Linked DNA regions of Homo sapiens. The protein of the gene in region 3 purifies or fractionates together with the protein of the main gene of each other region. This does not show direct contact. Each region holds a gene or a part of one and is shown on either strand. Other genes may lie near its edges. The genes, in order: NUMB, NDUFA12, BMP2K, REPS2, PIP, UTP25 and PPP1R2B.

Evidence for each region.
Region 1: the proteins of BMP2K (region 3) and NUMB purify together in Homo sapiens (affinity purification with mass spectrometry; 2 studies listed by BioGRID and IntAct, with this or other methods). This does not show direct contact.
Region 2: the proteins of BMP2K (region 3) and NDUFA12 purify together in Homo sapiens (affinity purification with mass spectrometry, with the first as the bait; one large-scale study listed by BioGRID). This does not show direct contact.
Region 4: the proteins of BMP2K (region 3) and REPS2 purify together in Homo sapiens (affinity purification with mass spectrometry, with the first as the bait; one large-scale study listed by BioGRID). This does not show direct contact.
Region 5: the proteins of BMP2K (region 3) and PIP purify together in Homo sapiens (co-immunoprecipitation; one large-scale study listed by IntAct). This does not show direct contact.
Region 6: the proteins of BMP2K (region 3) and UTP25 purify together in Homo sapiens (affinity purification with mass spectrometry, with the first as the bait; one large-scale study listed by BioGRID). This does not show direct contact.
Region 7: the proteins of BMP2K (region 3) and PPP1R2B purify together in Homo sapiens (affinity purification with mass spectrometry, with the first as the bait; one large-scale study listed by BioGRID). This does not show direct contact.

What each region holds. Positions count from the first base shown.
Region 1 is NC_000014.9:73,448,547-73,452,046, reverse strand, and holds part of NUMB (protein numb homolog), read left to right. Parts: intron 1-3,500. UniProt on the Homo sapiens protein: Regulates clathrin-mediated receptor endocytosis. Plays a role in the process of neurogenesis.
Region 2 is NC_000012.12:94,972,698-94,976,197, forward strand, and holds part of NDUFA12 (NADH dehydrogenase [ubiquinone] 1 alpha subcomplex subunit 12), read right to left. Parts: intron 1-3,500. UniProt on the Homo sapiens protein: Accessory subunit of the mitochondrial membrane respiratory chain NADH dehydrogenase (Complex I), that is believed not to be involved in catalysis. Complex I functions in the transfer of electrons from NADH to the respiratory chain.
Region 3 is NC_000004.12:78,873,850-78,877,349, reverse strand, and holds part of BMP2K (BMP-2-inducible protein kinase), read right to left. Parts: intron 1-3,500. UniProt on the Homo sapiens protein: May be involved in osteoblast differentiation.
Region 4 is NC_000023.11:16,949,658-16,953,157, reverse strand, and holds part of REPS2 (ralBP1-associated Eps domain-containing protein 2), read right to left. Parts: intron 1-3,500. UniProt on the Homo sapiens protein: Involved in ligand-dependent receptor mediated endocytosis of the EGF and insulin receptors as part of the Ral signaling pathway. By controlling growth factor receptors endocytosis may regulate cell survival.
Region 5 is NC_000007.14:143,135,077-143,137,657, reverse strand, and holds part of PIP (prolactin-inducible protein precursor), read right to left. Parts: intron 2,465-2,581; coding exon 2,359-2,464; intron 1-2,358.
Region 6 is NC_000001.11:209,830,972-209,834,471, forward strand, and holds part of UTP25 (U3 small nucleolar RNA-associated protein 25 homolog), read left to right. Parts: coding exon 1-72; intron 73-2,213; coding exon 2,214-2,387; intron 2,388-3,500. UniProt on the Homo sapiens protein: Component of the ribosomal small subunit processome for the biogenesis of ribosomes, functions in pre-ribosomal RNA (pre-rRNA) processing. Essential for embryonic development in part through the regulation of p53 pathway.
Region 7 is NC_000005.10:156,849,019-156,853,028, reverse strand, and holds PPP1R2B (protein phosphatase inhibitor 2 family member B), read right to left. Parts: upstream 2,735-4,010; 5' UTR 2,467-2,734; coding exon 1,849-2,466; 3' UTR 501-1,848; downstream 1-500. UniProt on the Homo sapiens protein: Inhibitor of protein-phosphatase 1.

The DNA.
Region 1 (3,500 bases), on a different chromosome or scaffold from region 3:
TTGTTAAACTCCTAAACTCAGGCAGTCCTCCCAAAGTGTTGGGATTACAGGCATGAGCTACCGTGCTCAGGCTATCTTACGTTCTTTTAACCAAGATCAAAGTCTTCAATTACCTGAGTAGGACAGCAAAATCTTAATTATGGTAACTTGATTATATTAAGGTGAATTATAGTTAATTTGGAACATTTCTAGTTTAATTAGGGAAGAAGAGGGAAAAACTGTAGAATACTGCTTAGCTCTGAATAAAGGCAAAGCTGGGGCAACCAGGGACACAGAAATCAGCTAAATTTGTAACTTTATTTAAGATTGGCCTTGGTTACCTTTGACTTTGGAAAAGTAATAGTGATACTTTCGTCTAGTCACTTGTGCATATGTACATCTCAGGTACATTTTGATTTTATCATGTAGATAATTTGTGAAGGTTTATTTACTTAATTTATTTTATTTAAAGATGCCCAGGCTGGAGTGCAGTGGCACAATCTCGGCTCACTGAAATCTCCACCTCCCAGGTTCAAGCAATTGTCCTGCGTCAGGCTACCGAGTAGCTGGGACTACAGGGGCATGCCACTATGCCTGGCTAATTTTTGTTGTAGGTTTTTTTTTTTTTTTTTTAGACGGTGTCTCCTCTGTTGCCCAGGCTGGAGTGCAGTGGCTCAATCTTGGCTCACTGCAACCTCCGCCTTGTGGGTTCAAGTAATTCTCCTGCTTTAGCCTCCCGAATAGCTGGGACTACAGGCACACGCCACCACACCTGGCTAGTTTTTTGTATTTTTAGTAGAGATGGGGTTTCACCATATTGGCCAGGCTGGTATTGAACTCCTGACCTCGTGATCTGCCTGCCTCAGCCTCCCGAAGTGTAGATTTGTTTTTTGTTTTTTTTTTTTTTTTTTTTTGAGACAGAGTCCTGCTCTGTCGCCCAGGATAGAGTGCAATGGTGCAATCTTGGCTTACTGCAACCTCCGCCTCCTGGGTTCAAGCAATTCTCCTGCCTCAGCCTCTCAAGTAGCTGGGATTACAGGTGCCAACTAGCATGCCCAGCTAACTTTTTTGTATTTTTAGTAGAGACGGGATTTCACCGTGTTGCTCAGGCTAGTCTTGAACTCCTGGCCTCAAGTGATCCTCCTGCCTCGGCCTCCCAAAGTGCTGGGATTACAGGCGTGAGTCACTGCGTTTGGTTTATTTACTTAATTTCTTTTAATATAAGCGACTTTGTTATAAGAAGTTTTAACTCCCAGTATTCTGTTTTGTTTTTTTTTTTAAGATGGGGTCTCGCTCTGTCTTCCAGGCTGGAGTGCTGTGGCACGATCTCGGCTCACTGCAACCTCCGCCTATCAGGTTCAAGCGATTATCCTGCCTTCCGAGTAGCTGGGATTACAGGCGTGTGCCACCACGCCCGGCTAATTTTTGTATTTTTAGTAGAAACAGGGTTCCGCCATATTGGCCAGGCTGATCTCAAACTCCTGACCTCAAGTAATCCACCTGCCTTGGCCTCCCAAAGTGTTGGGATTACAGGCGTGAGCCACTGCGCCCAGCCTAGCTCCCAGTATTCTTTAATCAAGATAAAACTTTTTTTTCCTCCAAACTAGTATCTCACAGAACCATAGAATAGCCTGCTGATGACAGAAATATATTTGTGACTGCCATGTTATGAAATTGAAAGAGCATCATTTATGTCCAGAGGCAGCATGACAGAATGGACAAAATTCATTATAATTGTGTGACCATGATTTTGAATCTTGACTTTATCGTTAATTTACTAATTGAGCAGTTTATTAAACTTCTTTTAGATTCAGTTTCGTCATCCATAAAATGGAGCTTATGCTATCCTCCACATCAGGGTGATGGTGAGAATTAAATGAAAAGCATTTTGTGTAGTGTATAGCATTTTGCCCATAGTGGGCACTTAACAAATTGTAATTGTTAATTATTAATAATTATCACATTAGATCTATTATAGACTTCTCTTTTAGGATGGGCTAATATTCCAGATACTGTTATTGTAAGCATTGTGGCAGCTAGGAAAACCAGAGTCGACTTTAAAACATTACAGGTATTTTAAGGCTGGGCGCGGTGGCTCACATCTGTAATCCCAGCACTTTGGGAGGCCAAAGTGGGCGGATCACCTGAGGTCAGGAGTTCGAGACCAGCCTGGCCAACATGGCGAAAGCCCGTGTCTACTAAAAATACAAAAATTAGCTGGGAGTAGTGGTGCATGCCTGTAATCCCAGCTACTCAGGAGGCTGAGGCAGGAGAATTGCTTGAACTTGGGAGGCAGAGGTTGCAGTGAGCCGAGCCACTGCACTCCAGCCTGGGCGACAGAGTGTGACTCTGTATCAAAAAACAAACACCAAAACATTACATATATTTTAAACATTTACTACTTCAGTTTGTTTTTGTGGTTGGTTTATTTTGGTGTATTAGACTGAAACATGGGGTAAATGAAGCTAATATTTTGTTGTGTGGTCACAGGCTGTTTATCTATCATATTATAGTCAGCCCTTATCTGTGTATTCTGCATCCTTGGATTCAACCAGCAGTTGATAGAAAATATTTGGAAAGAAAACCCAATAAAAAATAAAACAATACAAATAATACGAATAAATACAGTATAAGTATTTACATAGCTTTTACATTGTATTAGGTATTATATTAATAAGTAATCTAGAGATTATATAACATATATGGGAGAATGTGTGCAGGTTATATGCAAATACAGGTATCAGTGGGGGATTGATTCCAGGACCCCAATATACCAAAATCCATAGATGCACAGGTCACTTATATAAGATGGTGTAGTATTTACATATAACCTGCACACATTCTCCCGTATACTTTGAATTATTTCTCTAGATTAATTATAATACTTAATATTAGGTTGGTGCAAAAGTAATTACAGCTTTTGCCATTAAAAGTAATAGCAAAAACACAATTACTTTTACACCAACCTAATATGATATAAATGTTATGTACATAGTTATACTGTATTGTTTAGGGTATAATGACAAGAAAGAAAAGTAGGTACATGTTCATTACAACCATCCATTTTTTTTTCCGAATATATTTGATGCAAGATTGGTTGAATCCTCCTGTGTGGGACCCATGGATACAGAGGACCGACTGTACTATGCCATTATACATAAGGAACTGGGATATCTGCAGATTTTGGTATCCATGGGGTCCTGGATCGAGTCCCCCTCAGATACCAAGATGTGACTGTACCTGGTCCTCTTCCAAATACATGTGAGTTTTTGACAACAGTGGAAACCATTAATCCTACTACTAGAAAAAAACAATTGAGCATTATATTATTTACTGATTTTGTTATTAAAATCATTGCTTTTATTGAATTATTTTATTTACTGATATTGTTAATGATTTTAAATTAGTTCTAAATGCCAGTTAGAACCAGCTTATTTTTCCCTGGAGTTAATATATTTATCTTCGCAATTCAAGTAGAAATAGTTTTTATTTCAGAATTTAAGCCCTGTATCTTCCTTAGA
Region 2 (3,500 bases), on a different chromosome or scaffold from region 3:
GAGAAAAAAGTTAAATCGACCCCCAATTCACAAATATTTCAGTCATAAGTGCTTAACAATTTAAGAGGATATGTTCCAGAAATCAGACCTAAAAGCTGGATACCTGGAGTTGAAAGGGAAGAGACCACCGATGCTGCTGCTAATGACAGGGAAAGGAGGAATCAAAGTTTGTGGGACAGAGTGCAGGAAGCTAAGCTGAGGGGTTTACATGGGAAAGAAGGGAAGACAGAATTTGTCCCAGCCTCTAAGACCTGGAGCTCACAAGACAGAGATGACCTTATTGGGGGAAAAGAAAATGAGAAGACAGCCACAGAACTGCAGCCCGGGGGTGGGGGGAAAAGTGATTATCTAGCTGCAGAGAAAAGGACAAGAGGAGGATGTTTCAGTGGAATAACTAAAACTAAAGCTAATGAGAAAAAATTTTTGTTGCTATGTAAACCTAAGAATATTTGCTAGCAGTAATTGATAGATATAGCTAGGTAACTGACTAAAAACCAGTCTGAATAGAGATAAAATATGATTACAGTTGCTATGTTTATGTCTAAAGATAATTGTATCATGATCAGCTTATACAATGAAGAATGCAGAAGGCTGTACAAGCTAGGTCAGTGTCTGTCTTACATCCTCTAAAGGAAGCTGGGGATTAGTGAAAGTGACCTGGACCAATAAACTGTAACCATTCATATGAGCACACGAGCGCTGAAGCCCTTATGAGACGATAGTGGTGAGCCAGGCTCCACTAACCACTCAGAGGAGGGATTAGCTGTTAAAGTCAAGGCTGTCACTTATCAAGGGGCTTTATGTGAGCTTACGGCACAGCTGAAATATTTAACTTTTACCTCACTGAGTCAGCTTAACTAAAGAAAAATTTTATTCAAAAAATTGCTGTCAAGACTCCGGAAGGTTAAAATGATATTTAAGGAACCATAGTCCCAAGCTTATGCCTATTCAGTTACTTAAGTGAGGAAGTGAAGAGCTCATGGAGAAATGGAAAATGCTCCAAAAAAGGAAAAGATAATTTTTATCACAATACACAAAATCTGAAAATATTTATCCTAGCAAGCCTACATGCAAGAATCAGGGAATTAATAAATAATAAACTATACCCATTATGGCAGTTTATAAAGAATTATAAGAAATAAGGAAATGTTTATAGTCTGCTAGGCAAATATAACCCTTGTTATTTTATTATTAAATAAGGGGTAAAAAAAAATCATATCTTTCAGATTGCCACACCAGAGAGTTTTACTTGCAAAACAGACTCTTGGGTCTTTTTTTTTTTTTTTTTTTTTGAGACAGAGTCTTGCTCTGTGGCGCAGGCTGGAGTGCAGTGGTGATATCTTGGCTCACTGCAACCTCTGCCTCCTGGGCTCAAGTGATTCTCCTGCCTCAGCCTCCCGAGTAGCTGGGATTACAGGCGCATGCCATCATGCCGGGCTAATTTTTTTATTTTTAGTAGAGACGGGGTTTCACCATGTTGTCCAGGCTGGTCTCGAACTCCTGGCCTCCAGTGATTTGCCCGCCTCGGCCTCCCAAAGTGCTGAGATTAAGGCTACCGCTCTGGTCCACAAGGAGCAGTAAAAAAAACCTACAATGAGATATTATCTCATCCCAGTTAAAATGGCTTTTATACAAAAGACAGGCAATAATAAATGCTGGGAGGATACGGAGAAAAGGGAACCCTCAAACACGTTGGTGGGAATGTAAGTTAGTACAACCATTATAGAGAACAGTTAGGAAGTTCCTCAAAAAACTAAAAATTGAGCTACCATATGATTCAGCAATGATGCTGCTGGGTATAACCTAAATGAAAGGAAATCAGTATATCGAAGAGACTTTTGCACTCCGATGTTTGTTGCAGCATTGTTCACAACAGCCAAAATTTGGAAGCAACCTAAGTGTCTGTCAACAGATGAATGAGTAAAGAAAATGTGATACTTAAATACAATGGGGTACTATTCAGCCATAAAAAAGAACAACATCCTGTCATTAGTAACAACATGGATGGAACTGGAGATCATTACGTTAAGTGAAATAAGCCAGGTACAGAAAGACAAACATTGCATGTTCTCATTTATTTGTGATACTTAAAACTCAAAACAATTGCACTCATGGAGATAGAGAGTAGAAGAATGATTACCAGAGGCTGGGAAGGGTAGTGGGGTTGGTTTGGGGATTAGGGGGAGGTGGGGATGGTTAATGGGTATAAAAAAAAATAGTCAGAAAGAATGAATAAGACCTAGTATTTGACAGCACAACACAGTGACTATAGTCTATAATAACTTAATTGTACATTTTAAAACAACTAAAAGAGTATAATTGGATTGTTTGTAACACAAAGGACAAATGCTTGAAGGGATGGGTACCCCATTTTCCATGATGTGATGATCACATATTGCATGCCTGTGTCAAAACATCTCACCCCATAATATATACACCTACTATGTACCCAAAAAATTAAAATTGTTTTTAAAATTGAAAAGTGTATGTCCTAAAACACTATAAACAGGATTAAAGACTAAAAGAAACAGGGGAAAATATTTGTAATATACAGAAAAAAGGTTCATCTATCATTACAAATCAGAAAAAGTCAAATATCCAATAGAAAACTGGACAAAAAACATCAAGAGATGTCAACAAAGAAAAAATTATAGTGGCAAACAATGAAGTTTAATCAAGGCAATGCACATTAAGGTATAATTTTTTACTTGCTAAATTAGCAAAGATTTTAAAAAATAAAACCCAGAATCAGTGAACTTAAAGAGAAATCAGTACTCATATACTATTCAATATATTTATCCTGAGAATATAAATTGGTATAGCCCTTCTAGAGGGCAATTTGGCAGCAGGTATCAAAAACTTATAAAACATGTATACTCCTGGTGGATCCATTTCCATTTAAGGAAATGAGGATATGAATACTCATGTACAAGGATATTTATCAGAGCTTTATTTATAACAGTGAAAGAATGGAAAGAACAAAACCAAAAATAAAGGGAATAGCTCATGGCATATCCATATGATGGAAGACTAAGGCATTATTAACATTTATGCTATAGATAATATTTTGGCCAGGTATGGTGCCTCACACCTGTAATCCTAGCACTTCTGGAGGCCAAGGTGGGAGGATCGCTTGAGGCCATGAGTTCGAGACCAGCCTGGGCAACATGAGACCCCATGTCTACAAAAAATGCAAAAATTAGCCAGGCATGGTGGCAGGCACCTGTAGTCCTAGCTACTTGGGAGGCTGAGGCAGGGATCACATGAGCCCAGGAGTTCAAGGCTGCAGAAAGCCATGATCGTGCCTGGACAGCGGGGGATCCCATTTCTAAAAAAAGAGAAGAGAGAGAGAGACAGAGAATATTTTATGACTTGAGAAAATGTTCACCATATATGTTTTAAAAGCGGGTTATTTGCCTAATTTATTTAATACTTATAGATAGCATTTATAAGTCATGGGCACTAATCTATACACTTTACAAATATTAACCTATTTGATC
Region 3 (3,500 bases):
TTGTACATGTTTGTGTTTTGTGTTATAACCAAAGAGTCAAAATGTTTTTAAATTTTCAAAGTTTATAAAGTAAAAAAGTCACAGTAAACTAAGGTTAATTTATTATTGAAGAAGAAAAAAATTTTATATAAATTTAGTGTGTTCTAAGAATGCAGTGTTTATAAAGTCAAGTCTATAATAGTGTACAGTAATGTCCTAGGCCTTCACGTTCACTCACGACTCACTCATTGACCCACCCAGAAAAACTTCCAGTCCTCTAAGCTCCATTCATGGTAAGTGCCCTATACAGATGTACCATTTTTAATCCTTTATACAATATTTTTATTTTACCTTTTCTATGTTTAGATACAAAAATACTTACCATTCTGTTACAATTGTCTATAGTACTAAATATAGTAACATGCTATACAGGTTTGTAGCGTAAGAGCAATAAGCTATATAATAAAGCCTAGATGTGTAGTAGGCTATACCATCTAAGTTTGTGTAAATGCACTCTATGATGTTCATACAACAATAAAATTGCCTAATGATGCAATTTCTTAGAACATGTCCCCATTGTTATGCAATGCATGACTGTATAGCATAAGAACGAGACAATGTAAGAAAGCTATTAAGTTCCTTTCATAATTCATATGCAAATCCTCTTAACAGTAGTAATGAAGGGAGAATCCTAATGTTCAAAGTAGTATCTCAATTTCACAAGTCTTAACTGATCCCCTAAATTTACCTAACCGTTGAGAGCTCATTGCCATTGCCACCAAACAGGTCTTAGAAGAGAAAAGAAAGGCAAAAGTCGTCTATTTAATCCCTTAGTCCAAGCCCCTTCAGCATATCTGAGCCAAGAATAGGATACTTAAATACTTACTGAAGGCTAGCATATAACAGAGGAAAATAAATAGTAAGTTACCTACAAGTAAATAGACTTGCTTAGTAAATAGAACTTAGGTATCTTAATTTAAAAAACAATTCAGTTTAAAGTCCATTCTGGATGCATTAACTGCCAGTCTGAGCCTGCCTCTGTGTGACAGAGTCCCATCTCTCCTTAAAACACAGATCAGATGTTTTTACCCAGAAAATTGAAGGAAAAAAAAAAACAGATCACAGTGGGTAAAACTCAAAGAGAGATGGGCATCCCCCCTCCTGTCTGTCAATCATTCCTTTTAGAACTTTCGGATTCCCTATATGAATCACCCTCTTCCTATTCCCAAAATAAATTTATGGATTCCTATTGGCAGACTGTAACTCAATAGGGTTATCACCTTAACCTAGTTTAAACAGGTATTAAAAAATGTCTACAAGTTATCTGACATTCCTCCCTTCGAAGGGTGAAACCGAATTTCACTGCCCTTGAACATGAGCTAGATCTAGTGACTCAATTCTAACAAATGAAATATGGCACAAGCAGCAGCCCATGACTGCTGAGACTAGGTCTAAAAAGACATTTCAGATTCCTCCTTGCTCTGTCTCTTGGATCACTTATTGAGGGAGAAACCAGAATCAATAATTCCTTGTTCAAAATAATTTTTGCCTTGGCAAAGAGAAAACTCAAGCAGTCTTTTGAAGAAATCCATGTGGCAGGGGACTGAAGCCTCCTGCCCAAAGCCATGTGAGTGAACTATCTTGTAAATTACATCCTTTATCACCAGCCAAGCCTTCAGAGGACAGCCGACCCAGCCTTACCAGACACAACCACCCTGTTAAGCCACCCCTAAATTTCTGATCCAAAGAAAGTATGTAAGATAATAAATGTTAACTGCTGTTTTAAACCATTAAGTTTTGAGATAATTTATTAGGCATCAACAGATAACTAATATAACAGGGCAATTATATCATAAGAAGATAACGTATGCATAGATGATGTTTATTTTAACTATTATTGGAATATAACACAGTAATACTCTCTGATATTCATACTAAAGATAAATTAACATGGTGGAAGAGTAGAAAGTTTAGCAAAAGATAGTAGAAAAGAAAAGGAAATAATTATTCCAACAAAGATAGTGACTCTTTCCCTCTGTCTAAGGAACTACTACTTGGTTTCTTATATTCTACTCAAATAGCCCTTATCCACTGAGAGACAAACATTTAACCCCAATTCTCTTCTTCCACTGACTTTGTCATAAGCAGGAACATTAGTTTAGAGCTCTTTTTAAATTGTTACAGAAGATACTATACTCAACATACAATCTGATGTTAAATAGGTATAATATTAATGAAGTAGCATTGACGTACCAAGTGTGGCTGGAGCAATGTTCCCACATGAAGTTCCACATTTCTAACCTTTAGTGGCTGAGTGTATAATTTTTTCTAACACATCCTTAAATACATAAATTTCATAGGAGTGGAGTAAAACAAGTCTTATGCACTTTCCCAGATATGCAACCCAATATTTCCTAACCTGGGGAATGCAAGATGATTTTTGTGATAACTTATTTTTTAATAGTTACACAGAAATTAAAAGAAAAGTGTCTAATGTATCAAACCTGTGATTTGTCGAATAGCATCACTACAAATGAGAATAAAGCAGACAGTGCTATAGTAATTAATATACATTACAGGCATCAGCACCTTGCATGCCAGTGTATGCCTCAAATCCTTGGATATCCAACTTTCTTTTTAACTAATCAGAAGTTTAGACAGATTTCCAATTCATCATCCCATTCTCAACAGTGACATAACTTTGCTTCCAGGAGCTGACAGACTTTTAGAATATGAAGTATACACAATATATATGCTACGTCAGAGAAGACAGTTAATATCTTTTCTATTTTCCAACTAAATAAACTAGATTTGACATTTTTTATGCTAGTTAGCATCAAAAGTGGAAAAAAGCAATCATCTAATTAGTACAATAGCCTCATCAGTATCTTTAAGCAATTATCAAGCAGAATATCTGATTTTTAATGAGGAAAATTATTCCATTCTTATCACTAGGGGACTTAGCAAATTTATTAGATTACTATTTACATTTCATACTTTATATTTTAGTGGATCTTATTTGTTTAAAATGTATAATATGTTTTAATTTTATTATACACAATAATGTTACTAATTTATTAAAGAAAAAAGCACTATGTGAATAAAGCAAAAAATTTTAACTAGAGTAGATAAATGACAAAGAGTTCGGCAAATACTGATCTGAACTTTTTGTGTGTGTGTGTGTGTGTGTGTGTGAGATGGAGTCTCGCTCTGTTGCCAGGCTGGAGTGCAGTGGCATGATCTCAGCTCGCTGCAATCTCTGCCTCCCAAGTTCAAGCCATTCTCCTGCCTCAGCCTCCCAAGTAGCTGGGATTACAGGCGCGCACCACCACACCTAGATAATTTTTATATTTTTAGTAGAGATGAGGTTTCACCATGTTGGCTAGGATGGTCTTGATCTCCTGACCTCGTGATCCGCCTGCCCTGGTCACCCAAAGTGCTTGGATTACAGGCATGAGCCACCGCACCCTGCCTGATCTGGACCTTTAAACTGGCCTTTGACCTATACTCTGCTCTCTCCT
Region 4 (3,500 bases), on a different chromosome or scaffold from region 3:
GGTTTGTGTGTTTGTGTGTGTGTGTGTGTGTGTGTGTGTGTGTGTGTGTGTGTGTGTTTGTTTTTTGGTTTGTTTGTTTTTGAGACAGAGTTTCACTCTTGTCTCCCAGGCTGGAGTGCAATGGCCTGATCTCAGCTCACTGCAACCTTCGCCTCTCCGGTTCAAGCAATTCTCCTGCTAATTTTTGTATTTTTAGTAGAGATGGGGTTTCGCTATGTTGGCCAGGCTGGTTTCAAACTCCTGACCTCAGCTGATCTGCCCGCCTCGGCCTCCCAAAGTGCTAGGATTACAGGCAATGAGCCACCCTGCCCAGCCCCTAGTTACTGTTTTAATATGCTGGCCTCTATTTCCCTAAAGTATAGTTACAAAATGATATGATCTAAAGATGTAAAAATATAAAGTTGTTTCATTTAAATTTTTAAAAAATAGTTCTGCCTAATAATCTAGCAATGAGCGAAAGTTCACAAGAATTTGTCTTTTACCTATAATTTTCTTTAATGATTAAACAGTTGCTTCAAAAAATCAGAAGAGAGCCTTCAGAAAAGACTTCTCCCCAAAGGTGAGGGCATGCGCACAAATTGTTTAAATATTCCCTACTTCTCACAGCTTTGTTTTACTTATTTACCTCAATGAAAGCTGTTTAAACAATCAGACAACACTTATTGGGTTTTTTTTAATCATTCAGTGATTTCCCTTGATATGGAAGCAACAGTGTTTTATAATTATTCCCCTTAATGTCCAAGAATTAACTATCACAAAAATGAAAACCAACATGGATGAAGCCGGAAACCATCATTCTCAGCAAACTAACACAGGAACAGAAAACCAAACACCGCATGTTCTCACTCATAAGTGGGAGCTGAACAATGAGAAAACATGGACACAGGGAGGGAAACATCACACACCGGGGCCTATTCAGGGGTGCAGGGCTAGGGGAGAGATAGCATTAGGAGAAATACCTAATGTAGATGATGGGTTGATGGGTGCAGCAAATCACCATGGCACATATATATACCTATGTAACAAAACTGCACGTTCTCCAAGTGTATCCCAGAACTAAAGTATAATTTAAAAAATTAATACAGATGAGATCTGGAGCATATGTGTATAATTACATAAGTCATGTATGTTTTACATGAGCATAGAAAATGTAAAAAGATATGCACAAAATTGACTTTTTTATATACTCTTCTGTTACTTGGCTTTGAAAAAATAATGTTCCCATTTTTGAATTTTAAAAGAAAACTCCAATAAGATGTGTATATGTTAAAAAAATTTTTTTAATGAAAACCAATTTTAATGATGACTCATGCACAGCATTCCAAGAGACTGACACTATCCTAAAAGATAGATATTATAAAGCGGTCTGTTAATTCATTACATCAAATACAAAACTTGCTGCTTTAAGGTAGATATTTTATTTATTTACTTATTTATTTTATGAGACAGGGTCTGGCTCTTTCACCCAGGCTGGAGTGCAGTGGTGTCATAATGGCTCATTGCAGCCTCAAACTCCTGGGCTCAAGGGATCCTCCCACCTCAGCCTCCAGAATAGCTGGGACTACAGGCATGCCCCAGAGAGAGGTAGGTAGCGGGGGTGTGTGTGTGTGTGTGTGTGTGTGTGTGTGTGTGTGTGTGTGTGTGTGTGTGTGTGTGTAGATGGGGTTTTGCCATCTTGCCCAGGCTAGTCTAGAACTCCTGGGCTCAAGTAATCCTCCGACCTCAGACTCCCAAAGTGCTGGGATTTATAGGCGTGAGCCACTGGGCCTGGCCATAGCCTATTTTGAAAGGTCTTTTGGTCTCTTTATAGAGTATTTATTTCCCTGTGCTGACTTATTTTAAGAGCAGGATTCTAGCACTAGGTGGAAAATGGCAGAATGGGATACTTTTAAACTAGAAAAAGAAAATATGTCTACGAACAGGTAAATGGTTTTGTTTAGTATTTCAAGACAGAGCAACAAACGTTAGAGTAGTTGGTTTCCCAGGTTATGAAGTATTTTGTTGGTATTCAAAGGCCAGAATTTTACTAGAAGGCATAGTGTGTGGTAAGAATCAGGTCTGGGTTTGACATGTATTTGGTTTGGGTTTGACAGGCTTATTTTACTTTATTTTGATACAGGGTTTTGCTCTGTTGCCTACGCTGGAGAGCAATGGTGCGATCATAGTTCACTATAACCTTGAACTCCTGGGCTCAAGCAATTCTCCTGCCTCAGCCTCCAGAGTAGCTAGGACTACAAGCGCATGCCACCATGCCCGGCTATTTTATTTTGTGTAGAGACAGGGTCTCACTATGTTACCCAGGCTGATCTCAAAGTCCTGGCCTCAAGCAATCCTCCCATCCTTGGTCTCCCAAAGCACTGGGACTACAGGCGTGCGCCACAGCACCAGGCTGACATTTTATTTTTGGATGTTATATTTCAAGTCTTTTCTCAACCAAATAAAAACTCTGAAGTGTAAAAACATTCACATGAGAACATAAGCTCCATGAAGACAGAGATTGTGTTGGATTCACTATTATAACCTCAGCACCTAGGACAGTACCTGACACACATCAGAAACTCATATACGTTTTCCACCTAGTGCTAGAATCCTGCTGTTAAAATAAGTCAGCAAAGGAAAATAAATACTCTGTAAAGAAACCAATGCATTGCTGATGGGAACGCAAAATGGTACAATCACTTTGGAAAGCAGTTTGGCAGTTTCTTATAAAACTAAATATACTCTCACCATACAATCTAGCAATCATGCCCCTTGCTATTTACCCAAATGAGTCAAAAGCTTATCTCCTGCATGTAACAAAAAAGGCTGCATACAGATGTTTATAACAGCTTTATCCATAATTGCCCAAACTTGGAAGCAACCAAGATATCCTTCAGTAGGTGAATAAATAAATTGTAGTACATGCAGACAATGGAATATTATTCAGCACTATAAAGAAATGAGCCACCAAACCATAAAAAGACATGAAGGAATTTTAAGTGCATAGTACTACATGAAAGAAGCCAAAGTGAAAAGCCTATATACTGTATGACTCCAACTATATGACATTCTAAAAAAGGCAAAACTATGGGGACAGTAAAAAAAAAAAAAAAATCAGTGATTGCCACATGTTAGTGGAGAGGGAGGGATGAATCAATAGAGCACAGATTTTTAGAGCAGTGAAACTATTCTGTATGATACTACAATGGTGGAACCGTCATTATACATTTGTCCAAACCCACAGAATGTACAACACCAAGAGTGAGCCCTAATATATAGACTTTGGGGAATAATGAGGTGTCAATGTAGGTTCATCAATTGTAAAAACTCTATTATTCTGATGTGGGACGTTGAGAGTAAGGAAAGCTACGGGTGTGTCGGGGCAGGGGATATATGGGTACTCTGCTAAATTTTGCTGTGAACCTAAAACTGCTCTGAAAAAAAAAAATAGTCTATTAAAAAATATGTTAAGGCCAGGCATGGTGGCTCACGCCTGTAATCCCAGCACTTTGGGAGGCTGA
Region 5 (2,581 bases), on a different chromosome or scaffold from region 3:
AAAGTGCTGGGATTACAGGCACAAGCCACTGTGCCCGGCCTTGTTTACCTTTCTGTTACATTAGCAACAACATATCGTCATGAATCAGAATTTACACCACTTGTACAATAAAAGATCAGAATCCGTTGCATGCCTAGCATGGCACGTGGGACGTGTTGCCAAAGACCAGTGCAGTTTAATGTACTTCTTCAAGCTAAGTAACAACATCCATCACACAGATAATGTGTTCATAGAATAAAATTCAACTCTTCTATATTTTAAATGTATTGCTTTCCCAGCTAATGTGTGCATAAAGAAACACATACCTTACTGCATCACAAATTTATTTTTTACAAGTTAGTCACTGTTACTCAATGTGGTAGTTTCTCTCTGTAATCCAATGCACTTTATACATTTAGAAGCAATTTTCTGATAAATGTTTCATAAACTTCATGAAACCAACGAAATGGCCTGTAGCACAAAAATGTTTAAGCATTGTTTTTGCCACAAGTTTCCTTCAGCTTTAAAGGATTATGCAATCTTTATATTCAAATATACGATTGTAGGTATATTCTATTCTAATTCTAAAATAAATAAATATGAGTCTAAACCTCACTTTTTCAAAAATTCAGTTACAGAAAACATTATAAATGATAAAAAATGAGGATTAGATGGTAAGAATTTTATAGTTATATAAATATATTTTAATAAAAATTTAAAAATAGTTATACTTTGAAAAATGAAGCCACAAATAAAAATTTGTTGACTAGAATTAACAAAATTTCCTTTCCTGTAAATTATTTCTAGTTTGCAAAGTCAGTTAGTCTAAAGATTTCTTATTCTTTTAGTTGTGCTTAGGTGGGTTTTGAAAAGATTGCTTTATTTTAGAGTACTAGCATGATTCTTAAAAGCATACTTTTATTAATCACAAAAGCACAAAATTATGTCACATGTAATTTTATTGATTCAAACATATCTTATTATACCTACCACTACCATTAACTATTACCACCAGAAACCACCATTTTCACAAAAATTTTATGTACACATTATGTACATGTTCTTATTCTCATTCTCACCTGTGTTTGTGATAAACAAAATACAGAGTTGAAAAATTATGATTCAGCCTTGCTCCTACCCCAAATTAGTGTACATGTCTCAGATTCTTGGACTGAAAATAGAAAAATTTGACAAAGCAGCTGTGATATTCTTTGCTCATTGACCAGGAATTTTTCTTTACAGGTGTGGGGATATTTCTAGAATGCAGTTGACTGAATAGCAATCTTCATGTTCTCAATGTTGTTTTACATGTAATCATTGTCCTTAAGTCTCATTTGAATTAGGAAACTTATGTTGTAAGGAAATACTTGTGCTGCCTGATAGAAGGTGTCCTTCATGAAGGGTCTGGGGAGGGAGTAGGGGAGATGGGAGATGCATGGGTCTTGGCCCTAGAACAAAGGTAGTGGGGGCAGTTTGCATGCTTGTGACATCTGAGATCAATGACTAGGAAAAGGACACACAACCAGTGTCCCAGGGAAGAGTCACTGTGGATTAATAACTGCATAAGTCTATTTGACTTCTGGCCCTTGGCAGCTAGACAGGAGGGATAATGCTCTAATCCCAAGCTGCTCAAAAATGTGATCCTTTGGGCACAGCCTTGGTGTACCTTGGGCGTCTGTTAAAATCCAGAAGTTCTAATCTCTCCCCAGACCTGCTGAATGAAACTCTGAATTTTAACAAGATCCCCGAGTGAGTTTTAGACACATTACCATTTGAAAACCTCTGACCTTGTTCAGAGATTGGACTTCTGAACGTGGGGAAAAGGAGGAGATGATTACGAGCTCCTTGTCAGGGTGGGGAGGCTGGAACAAGAGTCCACTTCTGGTGACCCAGAGCAAAGGAGCAGAAGAAGGCAAGAGGACAGTAGAGTCGCTCAGTGCTTACTGGAGAGGAGGAGTCATATCCTGCATGTCCTCTTCTGCCCACCCACCTCAACCTATGGTGTGGAGTTGCTGCTTTCTCTTCTGAGAACTCCCCTCCCTCCATCCTAAACTAAACATGCTCAGGACCTTGGAAGGACTCTAACTGCTTCTCTACTAGCTCTTACACTTTTTTCTTTTTCCCTCTTTCTCACTTCCTATTCCTTCTTCCTTTCCTTCTTATTTATCCTAGACTTCTCTGGATTCGAACTTCTTCATCTGGAAAATGAGAAGTCATCTGTCCCAAGCTCCCACAGTTGTTCTGAGTCTCAAGTAGCATAACATAAGTGAGAATGTTTCATTAAGTACACTGTACATTATTAAAGTGAGAGATTAAATTATGTTTATAATCAAGGAGTTGAATTATCTTTTGAAGTCACGCCCCCAGTCCTCTACTTACCACCATGCATTCTTTCAATTCTGTTTGAACTGCAAGCACTGCAGTGACTTCGTCATTTGGACGTACTGACTTGGGAATGTCAAAATTCTTTATTATGATCTTCCGACTGATTGTGGGAAGAGAGAATCAGAACACCAGGATCAGAGACCAATCTTTGAGTGAGGGGGGAGCCATGAACAGGGCAAGGGGCACAGGATGGGCAAGGGAGGGAAATTATGGGGCT
Region 6 (3,500 bases), on a different chromosome or scaffold from region 3:
ACGATGAAGATGGTGGTAGCGATGTCAGTGTGGAAGAAGAGATGGCTGCAGAGTCTACTGAAAGTCCAGAGAGTAAGTGTCTTTACTATAGGCTCATCATCTTTGCCAGAACTATAGACAGTTCATCTCATGAGCATGGTACCTTATATACTGTGTGAGTTGGATGAAAGGACATGAATCCAAAATAGGGATTTACCCTTGTTGGGTTTGATTGTATCTTTGAGAATCTGATGGAAACACAGAACCTTCTTAGCACAGCTAGGCAGAAATAACATTTTTGCTTGTAATTTCAGGGACTTCATCAGTACTAGTGAAAGACCTCCTAATACAGAGGAAGGAGAACACAGTTCTGTCTTTGTGACTGTCTGAATTTATTGAAGAGGTTACTGTTCTTCTCTTAGGGAGACCAAGTTTGATGGAAGATAGACATAAATATATATAAAAAATTTCAAACAGTAGATTTGCGATTGCATGGAACAGCTAGATGTAAGGTGTTGAAGAGAGGCAGAGTGGTTGAACACTGCCAGTGTAAATTAGGGAAGGCTTCAGGGACTCTGTGTCACTCAGACTTGAAGGTGACTTTTTTCTTTAACTTCAAAATCACCTTCATTGAGGTATCATTTACATACAGTAAAACGTATCCAATTTAAATATACAGTCTGACAGGTTTTGACAAAGGTATACATCCAAATCAAGATACAGAACATTTCCATTACCTCCAAAAATTTTTCTTATCCTTTTGCAGTCAGTTCCCCACCCTTGGCATCAGGCAGCCACTGACCCGCCTTCTGTCACTGTAGATTAGTTTTGCCTGTTCTAGAAATTCATATAAATTGAATCATACAGTATGACTCCTTTTGTGTCTAGCTATTTTTGCTTCTCATGTTTTTCTAATTTATTTGTGTTGTGCATGTATTAGTCACTTACTACTTTTTAGTTGCTGGAATAGCATTCCATTGTCTGAATATAGCTGGGTGACTTTTTACTCATTATTTTAATGCCTATTTTTCTTATAGCCTTATTTTTTTTTTATACCTTCTGGTATTATATATCATTCCAGGTATTTTAACTGATCAGTTTTACTGAGATAAAAATTCATTGACTTACACTTAGGAGTTTGTTTTGTTTGTTTCTATTTTTCTTTGCTTTTTTGGATTTTTAAAAATGAAAATTTTTTTATCATTATAAAAATAATATATATTTACTGTAAACATTTAAGAGGGTAATATAGTTACCCTCTATCCCTGCTACCCAGAGATAAACACCTTTAGCATTGTATATAACCTTTCAGACTACATTTTTATGATTATATATGAGTATGTATATATATTTATGTGTATCTGTATAATGGCCTTATACATTTCCGTAACTTCCTACATCTGTGACTGTGGATTCACATTAGCTTCTTAATTACATAGTATTCCATTGTAAAAATATGATTGTACCCCATTGATAGACCCTTTTTCCCCCAGTTATTTCTTATAATCAGTGCTGCTTTGAACATCCTCTCATGTACATCTTAGTGTACTATGTCTGGTTACTATTTTAGAATAAGTTCCTAGAACTAGAAGTGGGTATATTAATTCGAAATCTCCAGAGAAACAGAACCGGTAGGATATGTGTGTATATGAGAAAGAGATCTGGCTCACGCCTGTAATCCCAACACTTTGGGAGGCTGAGGCAGGCAGATCGATTGAGCTTAGGAGTTTGAGACCAGCCTGGCCAACATGGCGAAACCCCATCTCTACAGAAAAATACAAAAATTAGCCAGGCATGGTGGTGCATGCCTGTAGTTTCAGCTACTCGGGAGCCTGAGGTGGAAAAATCACTTGAGCCCAAGAGGTGGAGGTTGCAGTGAGCCAAGATGACACCACTGCACTGCAGCCTGGGTGACAGAGCCAGACCCTGTCTCAATATATAAATAAATAAATAAACGCTCATCCAAAAATACCCTCGCAGAAACATCCAAAATAATGTTTGGCCAGATATCTGGGCACTGTGTCCCAGCCAAATTGAGACATAAAACCCACCATCATGCATCATGTGTTGATGATTAGGCTTAATTTTGAAATCTATGTTTTCTACCTGAATTTACCTAAATATAAATAGTATCAATGAACGCTATTGTTGGTATAGCCTAAGGAAATAAATTTTGTCAACAGAAGTATAATTTGTGAGTAAATAATTTTATAAAATGTTTCTCAAAACTGCAGATGTAGCTTTATCTGCTGACCCTGAGGGAAAAGAAGATGGGGAAGAGCCACCGGGCACATCACAAACATCCCCCGAAGAGTTCACAGATGCAAAACACGAGTCACTGTTCAGCCTGGAAACCAATTTTCTGGAAGAGGAAAGTGGAGACAACTCTTCTTTGAAAGCCTCTCAAGGTCATAGCACAGTGTGTGTTATTTGAATTCACCAGGTGCTTAGTATGGAATTTGTGTACTAATACACATTGAATCTATTATTGGAACAAACAGCAATAAAAACAGTTTAGTGGCTAGATCTAGAGCTGGGAAAAATAATTCTAAAAGGTATTTTGTGTTTCTCAGTGTTTAGGGGTTGGACGGGACATTTAGGAGAACAAACAAGAATGATGGTAGGGAAGGCCAGCTTCCCAGGCCTCACATTTTCATTATTGGAGTCAGGGGAAGATTTCTGATTTTCTCCCCAAGTAGGGAAAGAGAAAGAAAAAGAGGAAAAAATACTTCCTCTACCCCTCACTTGCTGTTCCTTTTTGGAGCAGTAATTTTTCAGATTTGCAAGACCCAGGGGTGGCTAATCTGAGTGGTCTTTATTACCAGGGAGACCCTCAAAAGCCAAAAAGCCCTACCCTGTGTCTCCTGCCTCCCACAGACTCTTGACCACTCCTGTGACCAAATGGCAGTCACGTGGTCAAGACGTGCCTATGGCGGGCTTTGATGGGTTCCTGCTGTCTCAAGTCCAGTTTCTCAGCCAGTGTCTGGGTGGGCAAGTCAGGTTGGTCTCGTTCTGTATCCTGATTGCCTTCATTGATCTCATTGCCATTCTTCAACCCAGCTTTACCTTTAATGAAACAGAAATTTTAATCCTCATTTGACTCATTTAGTTCTGTTGGTTATTTTGCAGGAGAAGAAGTGACAGGTAGAATTTGTAGATTTTAGTACAAACTCCATTCTGAACCATTAAAACTTAGAAACTTTGGAGGAAACATTAGGAAGCTTGACTGTCCCATAATTTCTGTGGTTGTTTTGCTCATACAGATATATTAGCATCTAGAATTCTTATGTCCTGTTGTTCACTCTTAGATATTTAATACAAGATGCATTTCATTTGAAATTTTACTGTTTGGATGCTTGGATGGGTCATTTAACTTTGTTCTGTTTCTTATGAGTGGGACTGGGAGAGAAGGTTGGGTGGCTAGCTCAGAATACTAAAGATTACTTGGAGTGCAGATGCTATCATGTGGATCATTTGTTCAATTCAGTGGAGTATTGGTCATATCTGTGTGTCCCAGTGCA
Region 7 (4,010 bases), on a different chromosome or scaffold from region 3:
GAACTCAGAAACAAGAAAACCAAAATCAGAGGTTGCATGAATATATGTGCACACATATGTACAGACTTAATCTCTACATCCCCCAAGACAGATTTAAACAGGTAATCCCAAAATTCTAAATTCAGAAACCAGAGATAAACAGTTTTGTTTCTAAATCAGTGGTATTACTAGATGAAATGTTTAGAATACTGCACTTATAGTTCAGCAGTACTTTGATTATATATCTCATTTAAAAAAATCAAAATAATAACCACATTCTTCTAACAGCAAAGAATTCTCCCACTTTTTATTTATTTTGAAATACTGATATTTCTATAAACCTGCAAGTGGAAGATAAGCTGTTCAATAAAAGCCTTATTTTATATATATAAATATATATTATACAGACATTATTTTAGAAGTCTGTTCATATAACAGATTATTTTGGTACTAACGAAAATTGTATACGATTCATCAATTGTATGGCTAGAAATGAAACCATAACCAAACCAAGACACACAGGGCTTTCCTGCACTTCGTTTAAGGAAAATATTCCACATAATTCTTACTGCGTTAGAGGAATAAAGTACATTTGTCATAGTATACATTATCATATTCCCTTAAAGCAGGGACTATTTAAAGTTTTTAAATTAAAAAATGTCCAGGCTTACTTCTGTCTGTACATTCAGGAATAATCATATCACTGGTTACATACAATTCTCATGCAAAGAAAACCCTCAAAAAACAAAAAAAAACCCTCGGTTGTTTTCTTAAGTCTAATTAAGCCAAACTAATAATAGCAATTTAATTAGCAATCTGTAAATCGAGAGGCATAGAAATTCAGCAGTTAAACTGTATTTCCTGCCTATAGTACTGCTGCTACTCAATCTATTTTCTTCATGTATTAGAAGAATTCATAGGCATTGATGGTCAAAATAAGAATTTCCACACAGCAGCAAATGACAGAAGAGTGACAGAAAGAGTTCCTAATGTCGTGACAATCTTAATGATCCTTTAAAAGGTAAAAGATTGTGTGTGTATGTGTGGAAAGGAGTAGGAAATAAAAGCAGGAGGTTAAGACAGGTATTTAAAGGGAATGGCGAGATAGCTACATTAGAATATTTATTTTTTAAAAAACTGCTCTGAAGTCTGCCCAGTGTACCAAAAACATTAAAAAACAAAAACAAACAAACCCCCTGCCAAAAAACAGAGCAGACATTGGTGAAAGTTTAACCTGATAATTTATTTGTGGGGAAAAAAGCTAGTTTTGATGAGAAAAAGTTCAGTCCTTTCCTTGTAAACACAAAGAAACTCAACAGGAATTTTAAAGGTAGTAGGTCAGAAAATGCAACAGTAACTCTTACAATTCTTTTCAATTAAACAGACAAATCAAGTTGAAGAGAAGTGTTAAAATACGATTCAGCTTGAATATTTATAAGTCTATATATCCTGTTGTTCAACTGGCTTTTGATTTTTAAAAAAACAAATCAACAAACTTTGTAAGAGCTACCACATTTCGAGTGATGAAAATAAATTAGTTCCCCCCCAAAGATATTGCTTAACTTCTAAAGCATAAAAAGCTCTATAATATCTTATACAAATTAACCAGTGTTCTTATGAAAGTAATGCAGTTTTGGACTGATGATATTACACTGTATTTGTGGTAAAGTACTAGGCATAAGAATATATATATCAATTAGGCATTTTCAGTCTAATTAGTCTCTAAGTTTATCATTTAATTCTTGGCAATATATAATAACTGGTATGCATTTTGGTACTTAAGTCATGAATTGTGGAGAACAAGAAGCAATGTATTATAGTCACAGGGTTTATATCTAACAAACAATTGCAGTGTTGAACAAATCTCTTCTATGAACTTCGTAATTTGTTTTGCTGTTGGTCACTTGGAGTAGATCCTTGATTTGATTCTTCCGTATTCATGCTTTCTCCATCTGCAGTCTCTAACATTTCTTCATCTTCATCATCATCATGTAGGTCTTTTGAAATTAATTGTCTGGCTAGTTTGATATTGAGTCCTTCATTGTAGTGAAGCTTCCTTCTCATTTCAAATTGTCGCTTTTTTTCTCGTTCTTCAGGTGAGAGGTCACTATCCTCCTCTCCACTGCTTTCTTGTTCCTGAATCCGGTACTTTGGCTCCAAGCCTTCAGCAGCAGCTAATTTCTTGGCTAGGATGTCTGGCGCCATGGCTTCAGTGGTCTCGGTGTCCCTACACGCATCTTCATCATCACCCATCATACTATGGTAAGGAGGGCTTGGTTCATCTATTTTCATTAAACCATAGCCTTTGTCTGCTGGATGATAGGTCGCCAAGATGTTAATTTCATCCCACTTCTGGGATTTTTTGCTCAGCTCCTCGTCGACACTCCTGCGGGGCTGTTCGGCCGACGCCACCATAGAGGAAGTCGTAGAGGTCTTGTTCTTCAAGATCCCCTTGATGGGCCGGTGGGAGGCCGTCGAGGCCGCCATTGCCGGGCGCTCCGGCTGTCGCCTCAGGGTCGCTGCTTGGCGTGGGGTCCGCGAAGAGAAGGGTCGGCACAGCAGAGACTCGCAGGCAGCCGCAGAGCCCGCTCAGGGCTAAAGCGGCCGCACCTGCTGCCTCGGAAACGGCTACTGGAGCGGTTGTCACAACGACCCCGACGCCAGAGCCAACGCCGAATGGGTGGCGGCTCCTCGCGCACCATTAGCCGCCGGCACTTGACCCGCGGCTCGCGGAGAGATGCCGGCCTAGAGCTCCGCGGGGAGTGGTGGGTGGGGGGTGGTGGGTGTGGTGGGGGTGGGGGGGGTGGAGCAAATCCGACGCCCTTTTTCATAGTTCTTTTGTACTGTGGACACCATGAGGCTTACAAAAAAAAACATCTTTATAGATGTAACAAGTTGTAAAGAGATGAAAACTTACAGAGCACGAAAACACAATAGAAACAAACTTTATCCCCCCACCACATTTTGACTTTATATTGTCTCAATTAATATATTTTTATATTGCCTAACTCTTGACGATTACTGTAGCTATTAAAGTTTTTGATTTGTCTTTTAGGCTTTATACTAGAGTTATAAGTGGGTTTCACACCACCTTTACAAGTATTAGGGCATTCTGGATTTTTCTGTGTACTTACAGTGGGTTTTATACCTCAAATGTTTTCTTTTTGCATGGTGGTGGCGGTGGTGATGGTGGTTTTTCTTATCGAAGAATTCCCGATGTGGCACGGTGGCTCATACCTGTAATCCCAGCACTTTGGGAGGCTGAGGTGGTCAGATCACTTGAGGTCAAGAGTTTGAGACCAGCCTGGCCAACATGGTGAAACCTCGTCTCTATTAAAATACAAAAATTAGCTAGGCATGGTGGTGCGTGTCTGTAATCTCAGCTACTTGGGAGGCTGAGGCAGGAGAATTACTTGAACCTGGAAGGTGGAGGTTGCAGTGAGCTGAGATCATGCCATTGCACTCCAACCTGGGTGACAGACTGAGTCTCTGTCTCAAAAGAAAAAAAAAAAAGAATTCCGTTTAGCATTTTTTATAGGATGGGTTTGGTGTTGAATTCTCTCTGCTTTTGTTCGTCTGAGAAAGACTTTATCCCTCCTGTTTGAATGATAGCTTTGCTGGATACAGTAGTCTTTGATGGCAGTTACTTTCTTTCAGCACTTTCAAAATGTCATCCTACTCCCTTCTGGCCTGTGTGGTTTCTGTTGAGAAGTTTGTTGCCAGATGAATTGGAGCTTCTTTATATGTCATTTGCTGCTTTTCTCTTGTTGCTTTTAGGAGTATCTCTTTGTCCTTGACTTGAGAATTTGATTATTATATCCTTTAAAGTACTCTTATTTGGGTTGAATCTGTTTGGTGTTCTCTGACCTTCCTGTACCTAGGTATTTTTCTTTCTCATGTTTTGGAGAGTTTTCTCTTATTATTTCTTTGAATAAGTTTTCTACCCCTTGTTTTTGCTCAGTTCCCACTTGAACATCCATAATTCTTGATTTTTGTCTTTTTAGGCAATTTTTCTCTATATTTTTGTTCCT